2 linked regions of the Homo sapiens genome follow. The protein of the gene in region 1 interacts with the protein of each later gene in a pairwise test. Each region holds a gene or a part of one and is shown in the gene's direction. Other genes may lie near its edges.

Region 1 (7,590 bases):
TGAGAAACCACAACTGTATAGATAAAAACACTTTCTGTTTGTGAATCTTAATCAATATTTAGGCAATACAAGAGTCTAGTCATTTCTTAATTGGGCTCTACTGGAGAATTCATAGATAAAACTTAAGGCATCTATTCTGTGAAATGAATTAACTTCTCTCTCGTGCATCTAGAGTGGTCCCTAGGGATGTGCCATTCTTGGGATAATTGAAAAAATAAACACTCAAAATTATTTTCTGTGATCTGTGGTACAGGTAAGGAACCATGGGCTGGATAGGCCTTTACATTGCATTTAAGCATTTAAAAATTACACTGAACTTTAATGGATCATTGAGTTGGAATGAGGAGGGGATATCCATTAAAAGATTGATTAATAAAATAAGGAAAATAGTAGTGATTTTTAAAAATATACCCTCAAGGATAAATTCTCCTAAATGTACTCACTTGAGACTTGAGATCACATCTATTTCTATAGGAGATTAAGGAGTTGATAAAATACCTCCGTTGAGGGAATCTTGGGTTCTCATCACATATTTCCAGAAAAACATGCTTCATGGATCCTGAAATATAAAAGATCCTCTTCTGATAAAATTAAGATTGTAGTTTTGAATGAATGAATGAATGAAGTTTGGTCAATAAATATCTGCTTATTAAATACTTAAGTGTCTATTCTAGTTGGAAAGACAAGATCAGCACAAAAAATTGTATGAGTCAAGTAAAGGACCCATTTAAAGGGTTTGAACTTGCTTGAAATTGCTTGAAAAAATACTATGGTTATTAAGTGCTAGATTGAATGACATAGTCAACACTGTTCAATAGAAATGTAATACAAGTTACATATGTAGTTTAAAATTTTCTAGGAGCCACATTAAAATACGTTAAAAGAAACAGGTGAAATTATTTTAATAATATTTAATCTAGTATATCAAAAATATTATTTCAATATGCTCTCAACATAAACAAATGAAATATTTTACTTTTTTAAATGAAAGTCTTCAAAATCCAAGGTGTATCTAGTCTCAAGAGCCCAGTTAGCCCATGTGGCTCATATGCTCAGTAACTACATGTGGCTGCTGTATAGAATAGTGCAAATAAAGACTATGTGAGGATAAGTATTGTTTGAAACTTGAACTTAGTGAATTCTCTTTTACAGCAAAGAGTTAAGATCTCTAGTATACTGTCTTGACTCAAGGTTGAGATATAGTGTTGAATAAATTATTTCTGATGTGGCTGAGCTATAGCCTTGAATTCCATAGCTTATCACTTTTGGTTTTCTAATATTTGTATTATTTGAGTAATTTCAAAGAACTAGAGAAAAGTATTGATGTGTTGATTTTATCTCTTTGATTTTCTTGAAATGTAAATATTATATGTATTTAAATTCAAGTGAATGTTTAAGATTAAATAGTGTATGTCTGTATACCTGTATGTATCTATGTGTACACATAGTCACTATTGTTACTGTTATGATAAAGGAATATACTTGCATAGGCATGTGACTTACTTGTCCCTATTCAAATGCAGAAAAATATTTGCTTCTTTCAGTCTAGTACAGTGTCACATATTTTTACTTTTTTTTTTTTTGAGACAGAGTCTCGCTCTGTCACCCAGGCTGGAGTGCAGTGGCTCAATCTCGGCCCACTGCAACCTCCACCTCCTAGGTTCAAGCAATTCTCATGCCTCAACCTCCCAAGCATCTGGGACTACAGGCACCTGCCACCCTGCCTGGCTAATTTTTGTATTTTTAGTAGAAACGGGGTTTTGCCATATTGGCCAGGATGGTCTCGAACTCCTGACCTCAGGTGATCTGCCCACCTCGGCCTCCCGAAGTGTTGGGATTACAGACGTGAGCCACTGTGCCCAGCCTACTTATTTTTTTTTATTACCAAAATAATACTGTTTGTTTTACAATATATTTTCAGGGTTCAATATGTAAGGGAACATTCTCTAGTATCTGAACTTTAGAACCTGGACCCTACCTAGGAAGATTAGCAAGTACACACCACTGAGGAAGGACTTTAAAGAAATATTTAGCTATTTTCAGAAAAAAGGCTCCAGTACTTCAGAATTTATAATAAAGATGTGTGTTCCAAATGTTGTAACTGTTCCATTAAAAGTGATGCTAATGAATCATAGAATCAGTTTAATTTCACTAAACTTAGTTTTTACTATTTTCAAAGCTATACAAACAAATCAATATGAAATTACATCATGTTTTTGCATTTTATCATGGTTCTCATCACTTCCTCTATATAAATGAAGAGAAGAAGCAGTAAAATTCAAATTTTCCTGAATACTTTTGTGTCCAGTGACATTCATTTCGATTCTTTCCAGATACCCTCTTTCAGCAGACACTTGATCAGCGTTTACTGCCTAAGGCTGAGAAGAAACTAGCTGCTCTGTCTAGCTCATTGTACATGTACAACTGTCCTCTAGCTTTGAGATCAGTAGCCAGGGCCTTTCGGTAATCAGCAGCTTACAGTTAAGGGGAAGGGGCAGAGAAGTTTGGTATTTACTCTTGACTTGGAGAAATAATGTGCCTCTAGCATTAATAAGAAATAGCTAAAAGAGTGAAAAGAAAAGTCTGAATACAAGAACAAAGTCAAAGTTCTTTCTTTGAATATGAAAAGAGAAGGGGAGGAAAAAGGAAGAAAGGAAACTGGTTTAGGGGATGGGAAAAATTGCTGTCATTTTAGTATCAAATGAATGAAAAAGTTTTTTAAATATCAGGAAGGAGAGAAAACTGAGGGTTAGAATTTTACTATAATGCTGGGTATAACACAGAACCAAGTAAATTACGGGAGAATTGCATAAATAATAGCAGAGGTTTTGGCATTAGGCATATCTGACCTGAATCCTGACCTGATGAAGCCACTTATTCATCTAGTTACTTAATCCTTTGGGTTGTTTCTATTCTGCATAATTGTGATAATAATAATTGTGAGGAGAATTAAATGAGATTTTTTTAAGGAACTTGGTAAGCATTTAATAAATGTAATTTAGTTATTTATTTCCATAGACTTTCCCATTCTTAATACTGGTGCCATAGTGGGGCCAGGCACAGTGGCTCATGCCAGTAATCCTAGCACTTTGGAAGGCCCAGGCGGGTGGATTGCCTGAGCTCCATCCAGCCTGGGCAACTTGGTGAAACCCCATCTCTACTAAAACACAAAAAATTAGCTGGTTGTGGTAATGTGTGTGTGTAGTCCCAGTACTCAGGAGGCTGTGGCATGAGAATTGCTTGAACCTGGGAGGAGGAGGTTGCAGTGAGCCAAGATTGCACCACTGCATTCTAGCTTAGGTGACGGAGTGAGACTGTCTCAAAAAAAAAAAAAAAAAAATGCTGCCATAGTGGATTAAGATGATGACAAAGAACTCCATTGGAAGGGTGGATTTTCTATTTATTCTACTATGAATTTTGGTGGATTTAACTACTAATGTGGTAAAACTGAGAACATAGAGAATGTCAGCATAAGACTTTATGACATTTTACTAACTGATAAAAGCTCCCCCTAAAATTTGCTATAGTAGTGAAAAGTTCTCATATAAGCTGTATTTAATCTGCCTCAGATATTAAAGCTATTGGTTTCAGAAATTATTCAAAATTGAGAATAACAGAATTACAGGATAAACTTTAGCCACATTCTTTTGAAGGCTGATTATGTAAGTAAAAGATATGATTTATCTGTAGCAGTTTTAGTTTTTTGAAGGTGGCATAGTGATGACCATTTAGCATCTTTGGAGTGTCAAGCACAGAATAGATGTTCAACAGTTATTTGCCTGAGAAATTGAGACTGAGATTGGAGTACTTAACCCACACAAGCTAGTTTGCTTTGTTCTCTTCCATAATTATAGATGTCACTCTTCGATCTACTGCAGATTAGTATCCTTAGTCACCAGGAAAGTTGAGACAAGGCACCTATCATGACATCATCTAAAAGAATGTGCATGTGCTTTATTGACAGGACATCAGTAGCAATATCTTTTATAAAGATACTATCTCAAAGCTTTTATAAAGAATAACACATTATTATAACTAAAGTTAACTGTGGTGAAGCCTGAAAATCAGATCATTTATCCATGGACAGATGTTTAAATTTCATCAAAGTGACTGCCAGACATTTTTGGATCATGTTGTCGGATTAGCCTAATTTTGTACTTCAGAAACATAGAAGGAATCTTTTGTTGGCGGATAGGTTTTTAGAAATTACCAAAGTTTAAATCATTTATTTTACTGATAAGGAAACATTTATATTTAAAACAAGTAAATATAAACCACATACATAGAATGTTTTTACTTCTTCATAAAATAATTTTTTATTTTCTTTATAAATAGTGAGCTATAATAGATTGATTTTAAGGTATGCAGAATAAAGTTTAGAAGAGCCCAGTGATAATACTAGCAACAAAGTAGTGTGTTGGAATACATATTGCTTCATTACATATTACATTATTAAGTGTTATTTTGGTAGTGTTTATAGAGAGCTTTGAGATAAATAGCCTTATCTGACACAATGCAACGTTGTGGTGCCACTGCAATTGTTATTAGGCAATTTTGCAAATGATACTGTGGGAGTGAAGAGAAGAATTGAATAAATGTGAAAATGAGAATAATTTGGACTAGAAACTATAGTGTTTATGATAAATTAGTCTCCAGAAGGTATAAATAATAGGTAATATAAACTCAAAACAGGGAAGGAATCACTTGGAGTTTTGTAAATTTAATACGTTTGTTGGACTTACAGACAAGAAATAAAAGTCTCTATAAGATGTATTTTAATTTTGTTTATATTTAAATTTTGAGTTTTTAAAGAGATAGCAGTACCCAGTTATCTATCAGTTAAGAAATCTGGGTGTTTAAGAAAGTTTGGGTTCCTTCCATTAAAAGGGAGATTTATAAGACTTGGCTTTTGCTTGGCTTTTTCATTTTTTTAAATATCCATTTTTAAGCATATTTTATATTATGGTTCTTCTTTATTTTCAACATTTTACTGTCAAATTCTTTTGCCTTAAGGGAAGATTTATAAAATACTCTATTCTTCAGTGCATTTATATATTATGTCTCTTCCACTGGACCTGTTACTATCTTGTAACTGTTTACAGTGGTCAAGGTTTTTTTTTTTTAATTTGAAACATATTGCTGTGGGGAAATTTCTTCTTCCTGAAATGAGCTCACCTCTATTGCCACACAATAAAAGAATTCTCAGCTTTTGAGAGCTCTGGCTTCCTTATGAAATATGGATAGACTTCTGCTTCTGAAGTGTTTTAGGTTTTTTTCTTTAGATAAGGAAGAAGAGGAATAAATAGTATGAGGTGTGTTTCTTCTTTTAAGACACAGGAATATCTATATCAGATAAATGAGAAGAAAATTAAGAAACTTTAAAGCTCTAAATGAGAGAGCTCATTAGAAATTAGCTACTTGGATGATGAAAATTTCTTCATCATCTACACTTAAAGGCATTTATGGTTTTTATACTACTTAGATACTTGATTTTGCAATTAGTATTTCTTTAGAATGTTTGTCCCTGATAGCTCCATCACATGGACTGTTATTCCTGAACACTCTGTTGTATTCTCCATGAAAAAATATTTTAGGAGAAAAGATAGAAAACTCAGCAATTATTTCAAGATAATTGTTGAGGACTTCCCTTGTTTCTTTTAAAAGCATAGCCTTTTGTTAGCCAGGTAGATTTATCTTTTCTTTAACATCTTCGATCAAGTAATACTTGAGGGAAATATTCTGTAGAAAGACATCCATTGAAGGCCAGAAACATCTACAGATGCAATGTGATCCCAAGCAATGAAGCATGTGGCCCTTCATTGGCATTATATGATAACAGGAGGATCTTCTGGCAGAAGAAGTGACTTTTGCTGCGTTCTGCATGCTGCCCCTCCAAACCCATCTTTGATTGGCACCTATGCCCTATTGAAACTGGCATCACACCTTCTGAATGGGCACAGTGCCAGGCTAGCAGATGGGTATGGGCAAAAGCATGCCAGAAACCCAGTATGTGAATCAAGTTTAAGTATCAGGGGCCCAAATTCCCATCCAGGGATATAAAAACTACAGTCTGTTGAGAGCTTTTTGTGCTTAAGGTTAAAGGACATGCCATTTCTACTCCAACTTAGAAGTTGATTAATTTTGAAAGTCAAACAGCAGCTCCTGTGGCTGTGTCAGGCAAAATCCTGTCTTTGGTGAATGAGAATTACTACTTCGTGTAGGGAAGAGAAAGTATTGTAATGAAGTTTCCAATGAGAGTTACTCTCCTGCAAGTGCCTCCAGCACTTAAGCAGCATGCATTCAGTGGAGATGAATATTTCTGTTCTCCAGCAGAGCCAGGTGCAATCAAAGCCAGATCTTCAACCTGCTGCAGTAAAGAACCCTAAATTTAGAAAGGGCAGGCAAAGTTTAGAAGAACTCCTTGGTGGCAGGCAGCTCTTTTCACTATGAGCTGATGAAGCTTCACAAAATTGTATAAAGGAGATGAAGGGAAAACTCCAAATAAAAGACCTTCAGAAAATTTCATCCAGAAACAGAAAGATTTTTAACAAACCAAAGGAAAAAGTTTAGTCCTTTCTCCTCAATGCAGAAAATCTTCTGAGTTTTCTATCAATAAAAACTTAGTTAACCAAAATGTTAGAACCAACTTAATGCATAAGTGACAAAACTTTCTATTTTTACATTTATTTCATTGCATGTCTATCATGTATATAAACTTTGCTTCTTGAATAATGGATTTTGCATAAAATTGAGAACTCTAAACATCATATTTCCTTCTGATTGTCTCACACCCACTACAGAACTCCCCTCCCCCACCCCCTAAAAGAGGGCACGCTTCCTTCTGATCACTTTAATCATATCTTCTAAATGCTCTAAAATTTACAGGAATGCCTGTAAGACCAGCTGTGGCCAAGAGAAGCTTTTCCTAATCGCCTTATAGCCGTTGCTTTTGCTTTTTCACTGTGTAAACTTTATCTATGGAACAGATTCCATGAGACCGTTGTGAATACTTCAACGTATTCAAAACATATAACTGCCACAAATTAAACTACTAAAACTAAAGCTGGTGCATTGTAACTGCCAAGTAAAACTGGCACGTCCCTCTGTCAGACTGCAGGAGAGTGTGCCATACAGTCCTCGGAAAACACAATTCATCCAGAAGCACTCTTGTCACTTGCTCTGATATTAAACCAGAGAAAGTGACATTAATTAAAGAAGTGACATGAGCCAACAAAGGCAATGAATTCTCAGCTTTGGCTCATGTGCAGACCTTAATCCAACCTGTTCTGCTTAGGTAGTGTGGCTATTTCTGAAGAGTAACTAGTGTGGCTACTCACCCCACTTCCTCTCATCTTCCCATTCTGCATCACGTGTTTGAGGAACTAACATTTTATATCCAGGGTTGGACTGGTTAATTGGTACACTGGTAGTCATTGCAGGGCTTCCCAAAATAGTAGTGTGGTGGCATGTGATGCTTTTATTGTACTTGGTAATAGTGTGAGATGTACAACTAGAGGTAGAGGAGAGTTGGTCTAACGAAAAGGCAAGCAACAGCCAAACAGCAGAATACCTAGACTTGGTAGACTGGAA
Region 2 (7,981 bases), on another chromosome or scaffold:
TGGAGGCTACACGGTCAGGATGGCCGGAATTCTTCTTTTCCTCCTTCGACATTAAATCCATCTGCTTGTCCTGTTGACTCTGTCTCCAAAACATGTCCTCTATCCCCTCTATTTCCTCCCTCTCCTCCACTCTCACCCGGTTCCTGCTCCCCACCTGGCCTGGGCCACCGCAGCTGTCTCAAAACCAGAGCCATGGCTGTGCCCTTGCCTCCCTACCATTGGCTCTCCATGTGGCAGCCTGAGGGATCTTTAAAACTCTCCACCTGAAAAGAACGTGACTTTCTTAGAGTACCGTGTTTCTAAAAATTTAATCTATTTTTGGGTCATGTGGGAATTTTGCTAAGATGCAGTTTGTGATTCAGTTATCTGGGGTTGGGCTCAAGACTGCGTTTCTAATAAGCTCCCAGGCCATACAGTTGCTGCTGCTCCTGGACCGCATTAGGAGTAACAAAGGCTTGGAGAAAAACCCAAACTTCCTTCCCATGTCCCACTTTATCTGGCCCCTGCATAGCTCTCCCACATCATCTCCAGCCCTTGCTCCTCTCCCTCATCTTGCTATGGCTTCTCTGGCCTTCACTTTGTTCCTGGAGTATGCCAAGCTGCTCCTACCTCAGGGCCTTTGCACATGATGTTCCCACTGCCTGGAGTGCTCCTTTCCTGGAACATTCCACATGGCTTGCTTTTCCTTATTTACATCTTAGTTCAATGGTCAGATAATAATTCTCTGTCCACTTCACCTAGTGAAGTACCTTAGCCACCAGAGACTCTCGGCTATTTGCTTTCTTCTTCTTCTGCGTAGCACTTATGATTCTCAGTTTATTTTGGTAATATATTTGTTGACATTCATTTCCTGTCCTTCCCTTCATGTATGTTCCACAGGGATAAGGACTCGGCTTCCTTCGCTTTGAGCCTACCCCAGAGCCTGGCGCATGCTAAGTGTCCTCTTCATGTTTCTTGGGCCTGTGCATGAAAATGCTCCCACCGCTGCTGTTGGTGTTTGGATGCAGACAAGCTCGGAAAAGCAATGAAGGGACCCGAGACAGAGGAGAGGAAGGAGAGAGTAAGCAAACTTTCTCTACTGAGGTGCCTCAGAAAAAGCCTCAAGAACCTGGAGATGATGCTGAAACCCTGAATCAACACATAATAGATCAATTCATCTAACTAGAAGAGATTCATTCTGGAAGGTGAGGAAGAAAGTAATGCATAGTTCAATGAGTTAAGCATTTGGAACAGTTTCAGTAGACATACAGTAAATATTTATCAAATAAATAAATATGCCGAACCCTTATTTTATGACCATTACTTTGTGTTATATAATCTGTTCATCCTCATAAAACATTATCACCATCTTGCAAATAAGAAGCTGTGCTACCAGATTAGGAGATTTGCCCGAGGTCATATAAGACTCGTCAAAGGTCATACAGCGATTCAGAGACAGAGCTGACTACCCTACTCTCTAAAACAGCTCTATTCGAAGTTGTAAAGGCCATATTCCCTGTCCCCTTCCCTGCAGTGCCATACCACCTGTTACCACTGACACACTGTGCATTTATCTGCTTGTCTGTTTCCTCTCACCACAGCATAAATTCCCTAAGGGTAAGAATCTTCATTTTGTTCACTACCCTTTTCCAGAGCCCAGAACAGGGCCTGCCATGTAAGTGGCACTTCATGAATGCTTACTGAATGTTAAAAGGATGAATGAAGGGATTATTTAAAAATCCTTATTTCGGCCAGGTGCCATGGCTCATGCCTGTAATCCTAGCACTTTTGGGAGAGTGAGGCCAAGAACAGGAGTTTGAGACCAGTCTACATGACACAGCAAGACCCTGTCCCTACAAAAAATTTAAAAATTAGTCAGATGCGGTGGCAGGCACCTGTAGTCCCAGCTACTCAGGAGGCTGAGGCAGGAGGATGGCTTGAGCCCAGGACTTTTGAGGCTGCAGTGAGCTTTCTCGCACCACTGCACTCCAACCTGGGCAACAGAGCAAATCCCTGTCTCTTAAAAACAAAAAACAAAAACAAAAAAGTTTCTCCACCTCTGAGGGGCAGTTCTGTAAACTTGTGGCTGACAGATGACTCAAATCCAGGCAAGAAGGCTGGAGGCCATCTGTGAGGAAGGAAAACTGTGGCCTGCTGAATGCTCTGGATAATCAGAGGGAAGACTGTATCCACAGAGGACAGACTCGCTGCATGGAACCTGGCGGGAGAGTAACCAGGGAGCTGGCATTTGTCCAGTCTCAGGCTCTGACATCACCCCTGTGGTGACATGGGTGGGCATGAATGCCACAAGCTGGCAGTGGCTCTTCTCAGGATGTGGCTTCCCACATAAAGTGGCCCTAGAGGGAGAATGTGATGACCAGGTCCCTGTGGCAATAACAAGTTTGATGTAAGTGCATAAATAGGCACTTACCAGAACATTTCTTGTGAGCCAGGCATGGTAGTTCACGCCTATAATCCCAGCACTTCAGGAGGCTGAAGGGGAAGGATTGCTTGAGCCCGAGAGTTTGAGACCAGCAGCCTGGGCAACGTAGAGAGACTCCATTTCTAAAAAAAAGGAAAAAAAAAAAAAAGTTAACGTTAGCCGGGCATGGTGGCACACTCCTATAGTCCCAGCTACTTGGGAAGCTGGGGTGGGAGGATCGCCTGAGTCTGGGAGGTCGAGGCTGCACTGAGCCATGATCATGCTACTGTACTCCAGCCTGAGTGACAGAGCAAGACCCTGTTTCAAAAAAAAAAAAATCTTTTGTGAATTGTGTTAGAATGAGTGAGTCGTTCAAGCCTGGCAGCTCTGGCTGCTGGACAGAGGCTCTGAACCAGCCAGGTTGGGTTGTGGATAGTCCCTTGAGATAGTTCTCTGCCCACTGACCTTCCTCTGTGCCTAGGCTTCTCAAAGTATAGACTTGCGACTGGGCTCAGACTAACCACATCAGTACCACCTGAGAACCTGATAGAAATGCAGATTCTCCTGCCCTGTCCTCTGATCTACAAAATTAGAAACTATAGAGGTGAGCTCCATGGTTCTGGGAATTAACAAGCCCTCCAAGTGATTCTGATGCATGTTCAAGTTTGAGAACCACAACTAGTTTCCCTTTCATAATAGTTACTACTTTGCAAGGAGTCGGATGGGGTTAAGGTAACAGGTTGAGAAATTCATAATATCGTGCAGGCGGTCTTTTTATAAGTTGAGTGAGGACTGGATCAATGACTCTCAATGGGAAAGGCCAGGGGTTAGGGAGGAACCTCCTTGCATTTGGAAAATCTCGAGGAGGGGTTAATTTGCAAAAACAAGTTTTAAAGTTATAGTTTTGCTTCCTAGACCTGATTTTTAAAAATTTATTATTTTTTTTAGAGACAGGGTCTTGTCACATTGCCCAGGCTGGTCTCGAACTCCTGGCTTTAAGTGATCCTTCCCCCTTGGCCTCTCAAAAGTGCTGGCATTACAGGCATGAGCCACGGTGCCCAGCCCTTAATTTATTTCGAAGGCTGGTGTAATATAAACATTAAAGGAAGGTGTAATACAAACTGCCATCCATTATTGATTGTTTTAGTGTCTACAAGGTTTGGATCCCACCTCCTGTCCAATTCTCATCCTCAAACACAAAAACAAAACCAAAAAAACAACTGTCTATCTACACACACACACACACCCTCGGCTGGCCTGAGAGGTAAAAGAAACATCCCATAGGACCTGCTGAAAGAGCTCCTGAGGCACGCTGGAGCCTTTCTTGTGTGCCATGCACTGTATCTGGCACTATAAAGAGGGTACAATAGCTAGTGGCTTCTGCAATCAAGCAGCTTACAAGAGAAAATTGAGAGGGGAGACATTTTTTCTGGTTGACAGATGTCGAAAGCATGAAGGTGTGGGAGCTTTGATCAGAGACTTGGTTTTTCAGTTTTGCCAGATAATAGAACGCATGGGGTGAACTAATGGGAGAGGAGGGTGAACAGATGGGCAAGGCTTGATTGCTGGGTTAGGAGGCACAGAAATGCACAGAGGACAAAGGACTACCAGTCCTTGGCAGTACTGTACTGCTCCATGGCCACTACCTGGGTCCAGGGCCACATTCAGATCTGAGGTTAGATAGTAAGAATTGCTAACATTTATCCAGCGACCACATGTGCCAGTAATCAATCTAGGTGCTGTACATGTATTAACTGATTCTTCATAGGAACCCTATTAAAGAGTTATTTGATGAGGAGAGTCGGGCATTCACTGGAAATCGAACGTGCCCAAAGTCTCACCCTAGACCGTGGTGGAGTCAGAATTTGAATCCTGGCCACTTGCTCCGAAGCCACCGACAATTCAGTGTGCTGTCCCCCGTGTCTGGGCTGGCTTGGTGGGCTGGGAATGGCGGGGGAATGGGACACTTATTTTGGCAGGTAAATGTGGTTCAGAAGAAAGCTCTTCGTCTTTCTCCAAGCCTGAGCAATCGTTTTGGCGCAGGCAGTCCAGAGTAGAGCGCTTTGTGAGCCAGCTACAGAAGTGCTGTAAGCCCCTTCCCACTAGATGGCAGCCCCTAAACCCACATACAAATCCTGGAACCTCCCTGGTCCCCATCTTCCAGGGCTGGGCTGCAGCTGAGGAACTGCGGGACGCACACCCGCCGGGCGTCCAGGGGGCGCCGCCCCATCCGGGGGTCGCGGGAAGCTCCTAGGCCGGGTGGGGGACGGAGGCGGACGGGGAGACGCTGCTCCCCCGACTCTCGGCGCCTGGGGGAGGAGCTGGCGCGGAGCAGCTCCACCCGGGGCTCCCGGTTGGGGCCGGCCCTCACCGCCTGCCTCGCCGCGGCCGCCGGGAGGGGAGGGGAGAGGAGGGCAGGGAGGGCGGCGCGGGCGCGGTCCGGGGCCCCGAGGGCGGAGGCCGGCGGCAGGTGCGCGGCGTGGACTACAAGTCCCAGCATGCCCGGCCGCCCTGACCCAGCCCCCGCCGCCGCTTAAAGGCTCCGGGAGCCGCAGCCGTCGGGTCGCCGCGGCTTTCGCTTTGCTGCCGCGGCTGGGAGGGTGGAAGCGGCAGACTCAGCGGCCGGCTCTACCGGCGTCCCGGCTCGGGCAGCGCCGAGGGGCGCTCCTGGTCCAGCTCTCCTGGCTCGGGGGTTCCTTGCCGAGGCGCCCGCGCCCCGGGCTCCCAGCCTCGGCCGCCGCGGCCCCGATGCCGAGGCATGGATAGAGCAGCGCTGCGCGCGGCGGCGATGGGAGAGAAGAAGGAGGGCGGTGGCGGGGGGGATGCGGCGGCCGCGGAGGGAGGCGCAGGGGCCGCGGCCAGCCGGGCGCTGCAGCAGTGCGGGCAGCTCCAGAAGCTCATCGACATCTCCATCGGCAGCCTGCGCGGGCTGCGCACCAAGTGCGCTGTGTCCAACGACCTCACCCAGCAGGAGATACGGACCCTGGAGGTAAGTGGGTCGGGGACCAGGCTGGGCTCGAGGAGCGGGCCCGGACACCTCCCTCCGGGCCCCAGTACTCCTGGCCGAGTTGCATCCTTGAGCCCGCGTCGCCCCCCTTGGAGGCTTCCCCTCCCTCCTGCACTCGCTGATGCGGCAGCCGGAGGACCCGGGACCAGCCCTCATCTTGGGCAGGATTTGTGGGGCGGGTGCGTCGTGGGAACTGGGATGGAGGCTCGAGGGGCCCGTGCGGGGTGGGCTGCGCGCGGACATCCCCTTTCCCCCCTTCTCCGCCCCCACCCCATTTCCAGTTTGCGGGGCCGCAGGACTCGTTGTCCCACCGAGTCACAAGCTGGACTTTTCCCCGTGTGACTGAGCCGAGCACCCGTGGGCCAGGGTGACGGAGGAGGTTCCCCTGAAGCGTGATCGCAGGCCTGCCGTCCCCTGTTCCCCTCACGCCCCAGACGCCGTCCTGTCCCTTCCTTTCCTCTCCTCTCAGGTCTTGTCTGCCGCCTTTTCAAAAAGTGTTGCTGAAACTGCATTTTTGTTATTCAGGCGTTTGGTGCTTTCCTTTCACGTTGCCACGGAGGCTCGCTGCTTAAAATGTATTAATAATTACCCGCTGACTCCCCCTGCTTCCCCCCAAAGATTGGATTTAGGCTTAGGAAGGATTATGCTGGGAAGCAAGCCTTTGGTGGGAAGATGAAACTGTTTAAAGGGTTCTGATGGAGACAGTCTGGAGTGTAAAGAAGAAATAAGATATGCGGGCCTTCCTCTCTCAAATTATAGCTGGGGAAGTATCTGAAGGATTTGGAAAAACCAGCCCGAGGGTTGTTGGGGCACCCTGTCCATACACAAATGAGGGCAACTAGTGGATTCTGAATGTGATTTTGGCCAGGGACGGGGCGGTGAAACGTCAGACCAGTTAATAGCTGCCCCGTCTTGAAGAAGGAACCTCTCACCATCTTGCCCTGCCACATCTGGCCTCCTGCAGGTCTGGGGATGTTTTGTTTTATTAGATCCTCAATTTCTCCTCCCCCAAACCCTCCCCCCGCCCCTTATTGCTAATTGCCTCTGCCAGCTGTCATAAGGCCCTCTGTGATCGCGGTAATTATTACAAGACCAATCCTTCCTCCAGGCATGCCACAAAGCCGAATCCTTGTTTGATTCCAAATGCTCGGGGGTGACTCTCCCTCAGTTTTATTTTCTTAAAAGCTATAAAACCACAGGACATTGGAAGAATACAGTCAGTGCTGGGTATTATTATTTTTTATTACAGTTGGCTAAAGCTGTACTGACCAAGGCTTTGCTTAAAAAACAAACAAAACCCCCTACAACTGGCCTTTCTGCATGCATGCTGCAGTTTTCCAAGTATTGAGAGAAACTGATTTTTTGAACACAGCTGAGTGTGTTTGCTCAGCAAAGTTCAGTTTTTAAGCTGACAACAATAGGGGGCCTGTGAGGCTCAGTTCCGGGAGGAGGGGTCGCTGTCTGGCAGAGTGTGCGTGGTTGGACTTCGGTGTTGCTGGGCTTGGAGAATGCTCTCTGTGTTGGCCTCTGTGGGATTGTCCCCACGTTGCTCTGAAGTGCTCCTGGCTTCCAGAGTGTGTATATAGGAGAACCACTTGCTGTGCATTCTCTGGAATGGCCTTTTGTCCTACCCTAACTTCCGGAGTCCCTCATTTTGATGGCAGTGTGGCGTTCATGACACCCCAGAGCATCCAGCTATTTAAGTGTTGGAGCTGGTTTATTCAGTGGCTTCCCTCCTGAGTGTTTGTTTAGACGATCATCCCTGGCAGCAGAGAACCCATCCAAAGGCCCACAGGGGATCTGCAGCTCCCTGTTCTTCCCACCGTGATGTGGATTCGGGTTCACTCCACTTCCTGAAAAGGCAGGGCCTGGGTTGTTTTGGGGGATGGGAATTTAGACCCCTGGAGTGAGTTCCATGGGGCTGCCACCAGCTAGTTTAGATGAGTCACTTCATCCCGGAGGCCTCAGCCTCCTCACCTGCAAAACAAGGAGGCTGGAGTGGATCTCTGAGGGCTCTGGAAGCTCGAAATTCTCTAGGTTAGAGAAGGAGACTTGGTTGGGTGAAATCAAATGTTTGTGATTGTTTTTATACTACCCTGGTTTAAGAATAACCCTCTTTAAGAATGGTTCTAAAATCCAGATTTACTGAACCCATAACATAGGGGTTAAGTTTATTAGAAGAATCTTTGCCATAGGAGCAGCGTGGTGAATAGGAAGCCCCATGGCTTTCATACTGGGCCTGGGTTCTGTCTGTGTGACCTTAGGCAAGTCCCATGACTTCTGAATCTCAAGCTCTCCTGTCTGTAAAATAGGAACGAGACTGCTCACACCTGCAGCATTTTGTCTGTCAGTCCGTGCTGATACTACGAAAAGAGTCTGCCTGGCAGCTGCCCCTAGTGAGGGTCCAGTAGCATTTATGGCACAGGCCACCACTAGGGAAACTTAACCCCTACTGGACCCTTGCTAGGGAAACTTAACCCCCTACTTTATGGGTTCAGTAAATCTGGATTTTAGGGAAAGGTACTTCTGCAGCTGCCTCTCATTTCATACAGGTGGGTGACACAAGCCAGGAA

Evidence for each region.
Region 2: the proteins of VRK2 (region 1) and KSR1 interact in binary tests that used the Homo sapiens proteins (3 or more experiments, as listed by UniProt).

The regions. Positions count from the first base shown.
Region 1 is NC_000002.12:58,049,280-58,056,869, forward strand, and holds part of VRK2 (serine/threonine-protein kinase VRK2), read left to right. Parts: intron 1-7,590. UniProt on the Homo sapiens protein: Serine/threonine kinase that regulates several signal transduction pathways.
Region 2 is NC_000017.11:27,451,485-27,459,465, forward strand, and holds the start of KSR1 (kinase suppressor of Ras 1), read left to right. Parts: upstream 1-4,963; 5' UTR 4,964-5,159; coding exon 5,160-5,390; intron 5,391-7,981.